Linked DNA regions of Homo sapiens: region 2 is linked to region 1. Evidence: fine-mapped expression QTL. A gene starts in region 1. The other region holds a variant in brackets. All regions are shown on one strand. Distances are between the middles of the regions. Region 1 holds the start of ACP2 (acid phosphatase 2, lysosomal). Region 2 overlaps MADD (MAP kinase activating death domain).

The links.
Region 2: its variant is fine-mapped to the expression of ACP2 in whole blood (TOPMed, PIP above 0.99).

What each region holds. Positions count from the first base shown.
Region 1 is chr11:47,246,210-47,251,587 of GRCh38, reverse strand. ACP2 (acid phosphatase 2, lysosomal) reads left to right here and starts at 2,774. Exons shown (of 11, transcript NM_001610.4): 1 at 2,774-2,912; 2 at 3,455-3,550; 3 at 3,861-3,947. The coding sequence starts at 2,799. It also overlaps a transcript of NR1H3 not described here. RefSeq lists a silencer at 2,331-2,498 and enhancers at 2,579-3,088, 3,219-3,308.
Region 2 is chr11:47,277,389-47,282,766 of GRCh38, reverse strand. It overlaps MADD (MAP kinase activating death domain), which reads right to left. Exons shown (of 37, transcript NM_001376571.1): 6 at 4,489-4,602; 7 at 3,688-3,768; 8 at 1,014-1,192; 9 at 151-386. Among named protein-coding and RNA genes, the nearest start is that of MADD-AS1, 8.0 kb to the right of the region's middle. The variant A/T (reference allele first, on the strand shown) is at 2,198.

The DNA of each region.
Region 1 (5,378 bases):
CAGGCTGGAGTGAAGTGGCACAATCTCGGCTCACGGCAGCCTCTGTATCCTGGGTTCAAGTGATTCTCCTGTCTCAGCCTCCCCGGTAGCTGGGATTACAGGCACACGCCACCACGACTGGCTAATTTTTGTATTTTTAGTAGAGATGGGGTTTCACCATGGTGGCCAGGCTGGTCTTGAACTGCTGACCTCAGGTGATCCACCCGCCTCGTCCTCCCAAAGTGCTGGGATTACAGGTGTGAGCCATGTCCGGCCTAGGTCCCGTTTAGTCCAACTAATTTGAAAAGGTTTCCTTTGACAGATACCTCTTTATTGAAAGGATTTCGGGATCACCAATTACAGTTTAGTAATGCAGTTTGAGTAGCCTGCAAGAAGCAGCCCATTATAGACTATTTAACTGAAAATCACAAAACCTGACTTTTTTTTTTTGAGACGGAGTCTTGCTCTGTCGCCCAGGCTGGGGTGCAGTGGCACGATCTCCGCTCACTGCAAGCTCCGCCTGCTGGGTTCACGACATTCTCCTGCCTCAGCCTCCTGAGTAGCTGGGACTACCGGCACCTGCCACCACACCCGGCTAACTTTTTGTATTTTTAGTAGAGATGGGGTTTCACCATGTTAGCCAGGATGGTCTTGATCTCCTGACCTCGTGATCCACCCGCCTCGGCCTCCCAAAGTGCCGGGATTACAGGCGTGAGCACGCACCCGGCCAAAACTTGACTTTTAATCCATTCTCAAACTGTGCCCATGCCCAAACTGTGAATTTGGGCAAGTCACTTCCTCTCTTTAGGTTTGTTTCCTAAGCTGTAAAGTAAGAGGACTAGGTTAAATCAGGTATTCAGAGATGCTGATTTATGAAACCTGTAATAAATGGTCTTTGTGAACCATTTGGGATTATATGCAAAATTCCATGTGTGTGTTTATATGTGTGAACATTTTTCTGGAGGAGAGGTGCAAAATTTTCATGTGATTCATAAAGGGGCTTGTGATTAAATAAGAAGGTTAAGAACTGTTTGGCTACCCAGGCTTTGGCTCTTACTCTATTTGCTTCTTGGCCTCCTCCATGACAACTCTGGAAGCAAAGTTTAAATCCTGAAGTATATATAAATAATTGAATCTGGAGTCCTAGGACAAAATAAAGACAGATAATCCTGATCTTTTTTTTTCTTTTCTTCTTTTTGAGACACAGTCTTGCTCTGTCATCTAGACTGGAGTGCAGTTGCACCATCATGGCTCACTGCAGCCTCAACCTCCTGGGCTGAAGGTGATCCTCCCACCTCAGCCTCCCGAGGAGCTAGGACCACAGGTGTGTGCCACCACACCCAGCTAATTTTTAAACTTTTTTTTGTAGAGAGGAGATCTTCCTAAGCTGCTCAGGCTGGTCTCCAACTCCTGGGCTCAAGCAATCTTCCCACCCTGGCCTCCCAAAGTGCTGGGATTAGAAACGTGAGCCACCACACCAAGCCTAATCAGGTTTTTGTTGTTGTTGTTTTGAGACAGTCTCACTCTGTCGCGCAGGCTGGAGTGCAGTGGCGTGATCTCAGCTCACTGCAACCTCCGCTTTCCGAGTTCAAGCGATTCTCCTGCCTCAGCCTCCAGAGTAGCTGGGATTACAGGAGCACGCCACTGCACCCGGCTAATTTTTTTTTTTTTGTATTTTTAGTAGAGACGGGGTTTCGCCACGTTGGCCAGGCTGGTCTCGAACTCCTGACCTCAGGTGATCTGCCTGCTTCGGCCTCTCAAAGTGCTGGTATTACAGGTGAGCCACGGCGCCCAGGCCAAGCCTGATCAGTTTTGTTTCCCAAAGATCTGAGGAGATTTGCTTCCAGTAGGCAGATCTGAATCAAAGCATCCCCAGGACCTATGATCTGACCTGCAACCGTCACAGGAGTCACAAAGTCCTGAGGCCAAACTGGCTGCACCTGAATCCTAATGGTCAATGCCAAGAGGGCCATTGATTCTGTGGAAACCCCACCTACTCCCACTTTATGATATGCGCCTGTCCCTTACCTCAAAATACCTCCCCACTGGTCTGAAATTCCTCCCCCAGGGATTCAGTGCTTTGGGTTTGTAAAGTCTGAACATCCTGTGCAACCCAACTCCTTTGGGAAGAGGCATGACATGACGTCTTGACTCTAATTAACTAAAACTTGGAAGTGGAGGGGAGGGAGGACAGGGAAAGGACTGGAAGGGAAAGTGAGAGGGCTACTGAAGCTTTGTGCAGGGCAGGAACGGTAGGCCAGACTGGGGCAACCTCAAGGACACACGGAGTCCAAAGGGTTGTTTACATACTGTGTCCTGCACCCCAAGCAAAACATCTCCTGGAGAACAGGGCCAGGGCTCAATCTCCCCACAAAGGCAGGGGCGTGGAGAGAAGCGACCTCTACTTTCCCATCCCTCGCCTCAATTCTGCACCCGATCTAGCTATGGGGTCAAGCCTGGAGGGGACGCTGGTTCTCCAGACATGGTCCCGCCCACTGCAAGTGCCACCTTGGTAAGGGATTTCTCCGAGCAGAGGCAAACGCGAATTTGTGGCCTTCTTAATCAAGATGAGGTCTTCGAGCCCTGTCTGCCGCGCCAGGTCGCGTTACCTTCTTATGCTCCTCCGCCACAGCCAGACCACGACCCTCCTGCACGCAATCCCACCGAGACTGCGCCTTTTCCCCGCACCCCAGCAGGTCCCTAAGTAAGATGGCGGCGAACGCACTTCCGGCGTGTGTCCTTACGGGTGCGTCCGGGCGGCTGCTTGCAGGTGCCACCCAGCGGGTTCCAGCTTGTTTGCTGCATAGATTACAACGGTGATGGCGGGCAAGCGGTCCGGCTGGAGCCGGGCGGCTCTCCTCCAGCTCCTTCTCGGCGTGAACCTGGTGGTGATGCCGCCCACCCGGGCCCGGAGTCTGCGCTTCGTTACCTTGGTAATGAGAGATGGGCTCACCAAAGACTTCCCTGAAGCTAAAAGGGCAAAGGCCAGCTGGTGGAGGTCGAGGATCTCGGGAAGGAACAGCTGGTTTAGGAGGGGACGACTGGCCTGGGTAGTTGGGAGGCTGGATTCAGGATTGACCTGGAGCCCTGGCTTATGGGAGTCAGGATGACCGAATACGTCGGGGTGAGTCTGCCTTGAGACAGGGAAGTGGTTGAATGGTTAAGACTCATCCCTAAAGAAGCCTTTGGTTATCTTTTTTCCCCAGTTGTCCCCACCACATACGTTGCTTTCACTTCTCTTTTCCCTTCCTACCTGTACCTTGGCTTTGCCTATGGTCTCCAGTAGCATTGCTTAGCTAAGTTAGAATCTCTGGAATCTGGAAGAAGTGACTGACTCCTAGCTGGGGTCTTTTGCAGCCAGTAGGCTTCCCAGAGGGAATGAGACTTCCTTCCCTAACATGGGGCAAAAGGTAGGCTCTGGGTCCCTATCAAGGGGATGCTTCTGACCTATAGGCAAACCATTTTATTCTCTCAGCTGTACCGCCATGGAGACCGTTCACCAGTGAAGACATATCCCAAGGACCCCTATCAGGAAGAAGAATGGCCCCAGGGGTTTGGTCAGTTAACCAAGGTGGGTCAGAAGCCAGCCTTTCCTCAGGATGAGCTGCAGAATGAGCGACGTCTAGAGCAGTCTACAAAACTTGGGGTCCTACTAAACTGCCTTTTCCCATATGGGTGCTGACTTTGACCAGATTTCATAACCTTAATCTCTGTGCCCATGATATTGCTGTGCATGACTGGCCACTTAATGAAAGACTTCTGGGATCAGATTAATTGACTCCAGCAAAGCGTGAACCTGGAAAGCAACAGGGCCTAAACCCCATGGGGCTTGAAGCCACCCCTTCCCTCTAGACCCTCTTAACCCTTGGGTTTGCCCACAGGAGGGGATGCTACAGCACTGGGAACTGGGCCAGGCCCTGCGGCAGCGCTATCACGGCTTCCTAAACACCTCTTATCACCGGCAAGAGGTAAGGTTGGGAGCTCCAGAGGCAAGGGGAACAAGGTATGCTGCCCTCATCTTTTGCCCTCAGGGAGCCTAAGGCTGAGGCTGGGCACTTTGGCCTCCTTCTTGTATTTTTGGTCACAACTACAGGAAAAGACATCTGAGAGCTGTCTGGAACAAAGCCCTAGGAGCTGAGTTGCCCCTGCTTGGCTGGGATGAGGCAAATTTGATTAAGCATCCAAATTCGGACTTAAGGGCGGGCCTGGCAAAGTGGTTTCTGACTGTGAAATCACAGGCTTTCCATCCAAGACATTGAGTACCTATTAAAGGCCAAGGACTGTGCTAGCACTTTGCATTCAGTTGTGCACCATACAGATATGATCTCTGTCTTCATGGAGCTTAGAATGTTGTGGGGGTATCTAATGATAAACCAGACAGGGCCAAGATGAAAGACAGCGGGGAAGACATGCGTAGAGAGGGCTTGTCTTTTCTTGATCAAGATGAGGTTTTTGAGCCCTGTCTGCTGCGCCAGGTCGTGCTATATTCCTAGGGCACATCAGGGAGGACTGGTGAGTGTGCCTGCTCCTTGAGTCTTCGCCCCACCCCAGGAATGGGGGAAGCTGTTCCTCTGATTACCACTGTCAGCCTCAGCCGTATCAAGAATCCATAGACATTGTTATTGTTCTCTTAAGGCCCAGCTCTGTCCTGAGCTTGTCCTTCCCCAGTTTCCTCCTCCCTTTTCATGAGCCACTATCTCTGAATAAGCTCTTCAAAAAAAATTTTTTTTTTTGAGACAGAGTCTTGCTGTGTTGCTCAGGCTGGAGTGCAGTGACATGGTCTTGGCTCACTGCAACCTCCACCTCCTAGGTTCAAGCGATTCTCCTGTCTCAGCCTCCCAAGTAGCTGGGATTACAGGTGTGTGCCACCATGCCTGGCTAATTTTTGTATTTTTAGTAGAGACAGGATTTCATCATGTTGGCCAGGCTGGTCTTGAACTCCTGACCTCAGCTGATCCGCCTGCCTCGGCCTCCTAAAGTGCTGGGATTACAGGCATGAGCCACCGTGCCCGGCCCAAAATATATACATATATTTTAAAGGGGTCTCACTCTGTCACCCAAACTGTAGCACATGCCTCAGTCATAGCTCACTGCAGCCTCAAACTCCTGGGCTCAAGTGATCCTCCTGCCTCAGCATCCCAAGTAGCTGGGACTACAAGTGCCCGCCACACTTGGGTAATTAAAAAATTTTTTTTTGTAGAGACAGGGTCTCACTATGTTGCCCAGGCTGGTCTCGAGCTCCTGGCCTCAAGCGATCCTCCTGCATTGGCCTCCCAAAGTGCTAGGATTATAGGTGTGAGCCACCAGGCCCAGCCCTTTATCTTATTTTTTTCTCCCTGGTCTCTAAGGGTCGTCACTGGAGCCAGTTTCTGCCCCAAGGACCCTGATCTAGACAGGGA
Region 2 (5,378 bases), 31 kb before region 1:
AGGCAAGCAACGCCTGAAAGAAAGGCAGGAAAAAGTCTAAAGCAGAGCCAGGATAGAAGGCACAGGTCAAACATTAGCAAAGGAAAAATCAAAGTCCATCAGGAGGACAGAGGCACAAGGCAGAGCGGAGCAGAGGGCAGGTAGACTCACTGTTGTGAATTCGCTGAAAGGCATAGTTGGTGGGGTTAAGGATCCATTCCCCAAAGTACTCCACAGCCTGAGTCCTGGCCAATTTCTCGGCAAAAGGAGTCTGCCGGGGACGTGAGGCTAGAAAGGAGCCAGCTTGAAAAGCTACCACAGGCCGAGGAAAGAGGCGCAGGGTACGCGTGTGCATCTGAAATCCCTGCAGCACGTTGGCGGAATTGAAGAACCGTACCATGGCAACCCTGGGGAAGCAGATGATGAGATAATCTGAGACCCATAGGGTAAGGATTCCCATGATCCAAAGTCTTAGAACACCTCCCAAAGCCATCACTTAACAGGCTTCCAACATCAAGGGGAGAGATATCTTAAAGAATCATCAGCCCCCTCTTCATCCTGAGCACGTGGTTTACTATTTCTTCACTTTGATTTTACTAAGGTGGAAAATAACAACCAAATATAGTATATATTTTATACATAAAGAAACCCTGGGCTGGGTGCGGTGGCTCACGGCTGTAATCCCAGCACTTTGGGAGGACAAGGCGGGTGGATCAACTGAGGTCAGGAGTTCCAGACCAGCCTGGCCAACATGGTGAAACCCCGTCTCTACTAAAAATGTAAAAATTAGCCAGGCGTGGTGGCAGGCGCCTGTAATCCCAGCCACTCAGGAAGCTGAGGCAGGAGAATCACTTGAACCCGGGAGGTGGAAGTTGCAGTGAGCTGAGATTATGCCATTGCACTCCAACAAGAGTGAGAATCTATCTCAAAAAAAAAAGGAACCCTGGTTCAGAGAAATAGTCTGCCCCAAGGTCCCTTAGAGAGCAAAGAAATTAATTTAAGAACTTGTGATTATACAGTCGGCTTGGTCTTACCTGGTTGCAACATCCACAGAATCCACATCATTGCCATAGATGAGTGGGTTGAATTCAGTGGACGGTGTGGACTGCAGGTCATTAGAAGGCCTTCCCAAGAGAAGGGGGATCTCCTGGCCCTCATGAAATTTCTCCAGATTGAGGATGGGCTGGGTGTTGAGACTCATGCTGGCCAAGGCCTGTGGAACAACAAGAAAATTCCTTACACAAGGAACGTCCCTGGGCAGCTAGCCAATCTTAACTCCAAGGAAAAGGCCTTCCTAAGGTCTGCTACCTCGTATTCTCTGGTCAAAAAGTTCTGCAACAAAGAACGGTGCTAATTTGCAAATCACGGCCAACCCATTTCAGACCTTTCATCTTTGAAATAAAAATCCCAATATTCTAGCCTTTAGAAAACAGTTTGAAATATGTAGCTCTCCATCTTAAGACAACCTAGCTCAAGGCAACTTGATCTTATCTGAAGTCCACGACAGTCGTTTGCAAAATTATTATAGTCATTAAATGTTTTTTAAAATTGGAATCTATGTGAAATTATATAGAATGGAAATTTGAAAACAGAGCTGCTCTGAAGGACACAGGAAGCAGAGCCTCAAATGCTCAGGGCTCCCAAGCTAAATCGGCCCCTCAGAGGCTCAATGGGGCAGCGTGAAGACCACTGGTCGAGAGCAGCAGTGCTTCTCAAATGTGAGTGAGGAGAAGAATCACCAGGGGAGGCTGTTAAAATGCAGATCCCGATTCAATATGCCTGGAGTGATCCTGCACTTTAACAAGCCCGAGTGATGCTAATGTTGCTGGTTCACAAACCACACTTTGAATAGCAGGAGTTAGAACACAGGATCAATGAGTCCAAGGATCTTAGCTCCTACAAACATTTAAAATATAATTCTGGCTGGGCACGGTGGCTCATGCCTGTAATCCCAATACTTTGGGAGGCCAAGGCAAGTGGATCACCTGAAGTTAGGAGTTTGAGACCAGCCTGGCCAACATGATGAAACCCCAGCTCTACTAAAAATACAAACAAATTAGCTGGGCACAGTGGTGTGTGCCTGGAATCCCAGCTACTCAGGAGGCTGAGGCAAGAGATTCGCTTGAACTTGGGAGGCAGAGAATGCAGTGAGCCAAGATTGTGCCACTGCACTCCAGCCTGGGTGACAGAGTGGGACTCCATCTCAAAATAAATAAAT[A/T]AATTAATTAATTAATTTAATTAAATATAATTCCATTTATTAACCTCTCCATCTCATTAGTCATACTAAAGCAATCATCAAGACTGAAAACACAGCAAGTGAAGGCAGCTAGAGAACTTTCTGAACTTAAAATTCCCACTAGACTCTGCAGTAACAAGGTATCATATTATATTAGCAGTGATGAAGCAACTGAGGTGAGAGGGATGAAACACAATGACCCATTTAAACCCAAACATAGCATCTAGAGATACTACTAAGTACTTCAGACAACACAGAAAAAGATTTCTAAAGGCCCTTCAAATGAGAGCAGGGATTCCTAAAAATAAACACAGTGTTATCTACTGGTGTTCCTGTACAACACATAAGGCAGAGGAAGGGAATGAAGCTTTGTCATGTGTTACCTTCAGGTACTGTGTTCAGCATGCAGAGGAAGAAGAAAATCAATCAATAAAAAATGGATGTGAGGAATTACTCAAAGAAAGGAATTTTTTTGTTTGTTTGAGACTGAGTCTCACTCTGTGGCCCAGGCAGGAGTGCAATGGCGCAATCTTGGCTCACTGCAACCTCTGCCTCCTGGGTTCAAGTGATTCTTCTACCTCAGCCTCCTGAGTAGCTGGACTACGGGCGTCCACCACCATGCCCGGCTAATTTTTGTATTTTTAGTAGAGACAGGGTTTCAACATAATGGCCAGGCTGGTCTTCAACTCCTGACCTCGTGATTCACCTGCCTCGGCCTCCCAAAGTGCTGGGATTACAGGCATGAGGCACCGTGCCCAGCCAAATAAAGGAATTTTTGAAGAAAGGAACCCTCAGGATCAACTCTAGAAGATAATATAAAAGCAGCCAGACGGTCCACACTACTAACTTCCACCTAACAAGACTGAGAAAATCGGCCGGGCGCAGTGGCTCACGCCTGTAATCCCAGCACTTCGGGAGGCTGAGGCAGGCGGATCATGAGGTCAGGAGATAGAGGCCATCCTGGCTAACATGGCAAAACCCCGTCTCTACCAAAAATACAAAAAAATTAGCCGGGTGTGGCGGCGTGCGCCTATAGTCCCAGCTCCTGGAGAGGCAGAAGAATGGCGTGAACTCAGAAGGCAGAGCTTGCAGTGAGCCGAGATCGCGCCACTGCACTCCAGCCTAGGGGACAGAGCAAGACTCCACATCTCAAAAAAAAAAAAAAAAAAAGACTGAGAAAATGTTCTGAAGCCATAGAGAGTGGCACACATACAAGAAACAGAGAGTGAAGGGCTATTTTATACAGCATCATAAGCATTAGAAGATGGTAAAGCATACAATGAATTGGAATCAAAAACAGAAATTCACTCTGCCACCCAGAAATGGGATACGCGTTTTCTTAAGCCCATCCAGGGTGAAGAAAACTACTCCACTTGAAGTTTGATAGGAAATTGGCTCTGAGAATAGCTGTCTTCTTATAGGAATCCCACAGCATCTAATACTCCCCTTTCTTTCCTTCGTTCTTCACCTACCTGCTTTAAATGCTTTTTCAGCTCTAGTGATTCTGGTTCTGGCAGGATAGGCAGCACTTCTGCATTGGTGGGGGCAATCACCTGCACCAGAGAAATGATAAAAGACGTGACCTTAGAGTTTATTGCTCAGGAATTTCACTTACATAAATAAAAATAAGAGGACGTATATACATTATTATTATATAAACGAATATACATTATATAACTGCACAGTAAGATATATGTACACACATATATGACATACATATGCATCTGAAATGAAATATAACTTAATGTTATTGGTTATTATCTCTAGATAAAAGGATTATGGTTTTTCTTTTCACTTATTTTATTTACGCTTATTTTTATTTTTTTTAAGTTTTACAATGAGCACACATAAGGGCTTCCCACCAAAGTCTGAATGTATTCACATTGCAGAATGGTCATATAATTAATTAAGCCTGCACTGAAAGACAGTTTCTTACTGGAAACTATACCCCAGGGAAACCATTAAGAGATGATCTATACCACATGTAATGGCCCTCAGATCACAACTGTCTGACTGCTCTTGGAGGATATGGTGGGGGGTCACTTAATTCTGGCAAAAATAAATCCTGTAATTCTCTGAGACCTAACCAAGGGTTTATTTGGCTAATAAGGTAAAAGGAGCATTTAAAAAAACTTGTTTCAGTAAGTCTCGCAATAGAAATTATCCAACAACTTAGGACGTTCCTGAAAGGAATCTAGAAACAGATATCTCAGGACTGGGTCTAGAATGCAATCCTCCTCTAGACTCTACAATGCCTCAGCCAAGAACCTCACCCTATTGCTGTCCAGATCCACTAGCCATACATCATCAGGCATTTTGAAGTCCAGTTTGTAGAGGAAGAAGCTGGCAGGAACCCCAATGATGTACGGGGTTGGAGCCAACAGCAGCTGTGGAAATGATAAAGAAGGTGAGAAACAAAGACAAAACCTATCATGAGCACTTATCAAGTCTGGATTCTTCTAGATAAGGAAATGCAGATACAATCCCTCTTCCAAAACTCTTGAGGCCAGATGTATTTGAAAATTCAGAATTTTTCAGATTTTTTGAAAGGTAACATGGTACATTTTTTTGTATACAGTAGTCTTTCTTATCCACAGTTTCACTTTCTGTGATTCCAGTTAACTGAGGCAAACTGTAGTCTGAAAATATTAAAAGGAAAATTCCAGAAATAAACAATTCATAAATTTTAAACTGCAGCTTGATCATATCTGAAGTGCAGGACAATAGTTCTGAGAAGCATGATGAAATCTCATGCTGTCCCGCTCTGTCCCACCCAGACATGAATCACCCCTGTGTCCAGCCTGTAGCCATCTCGGTTATCAGATCAACTGTCACACAATCTCAGCGTTTGTGTTCAAGTAACCCTTATTTTACTTAATAATGGCCCCAAAGCACAAGGGTACTGATGCTGGCAATTGGGATATGCCAAAGAGAAGCCAAATATATGTAGAAAGAGGCTGGGCACGGTGGCTCATGCCTGTAATCCCAGCACTTTGGGAGGCTGAGGCAGGCGGATCACCTAAGGTCAAGAGTTCAAGACCAGCCCAGCCAACATGGTGAAACCCCGCCTCTACTAAAAATACAAAAAATTATTTGGTGTGTGGTGGTGGCAGTGCCTGTAATCCCAGCTACTAGGGAGGCTGAAGCAGGAGAATCACTTGAA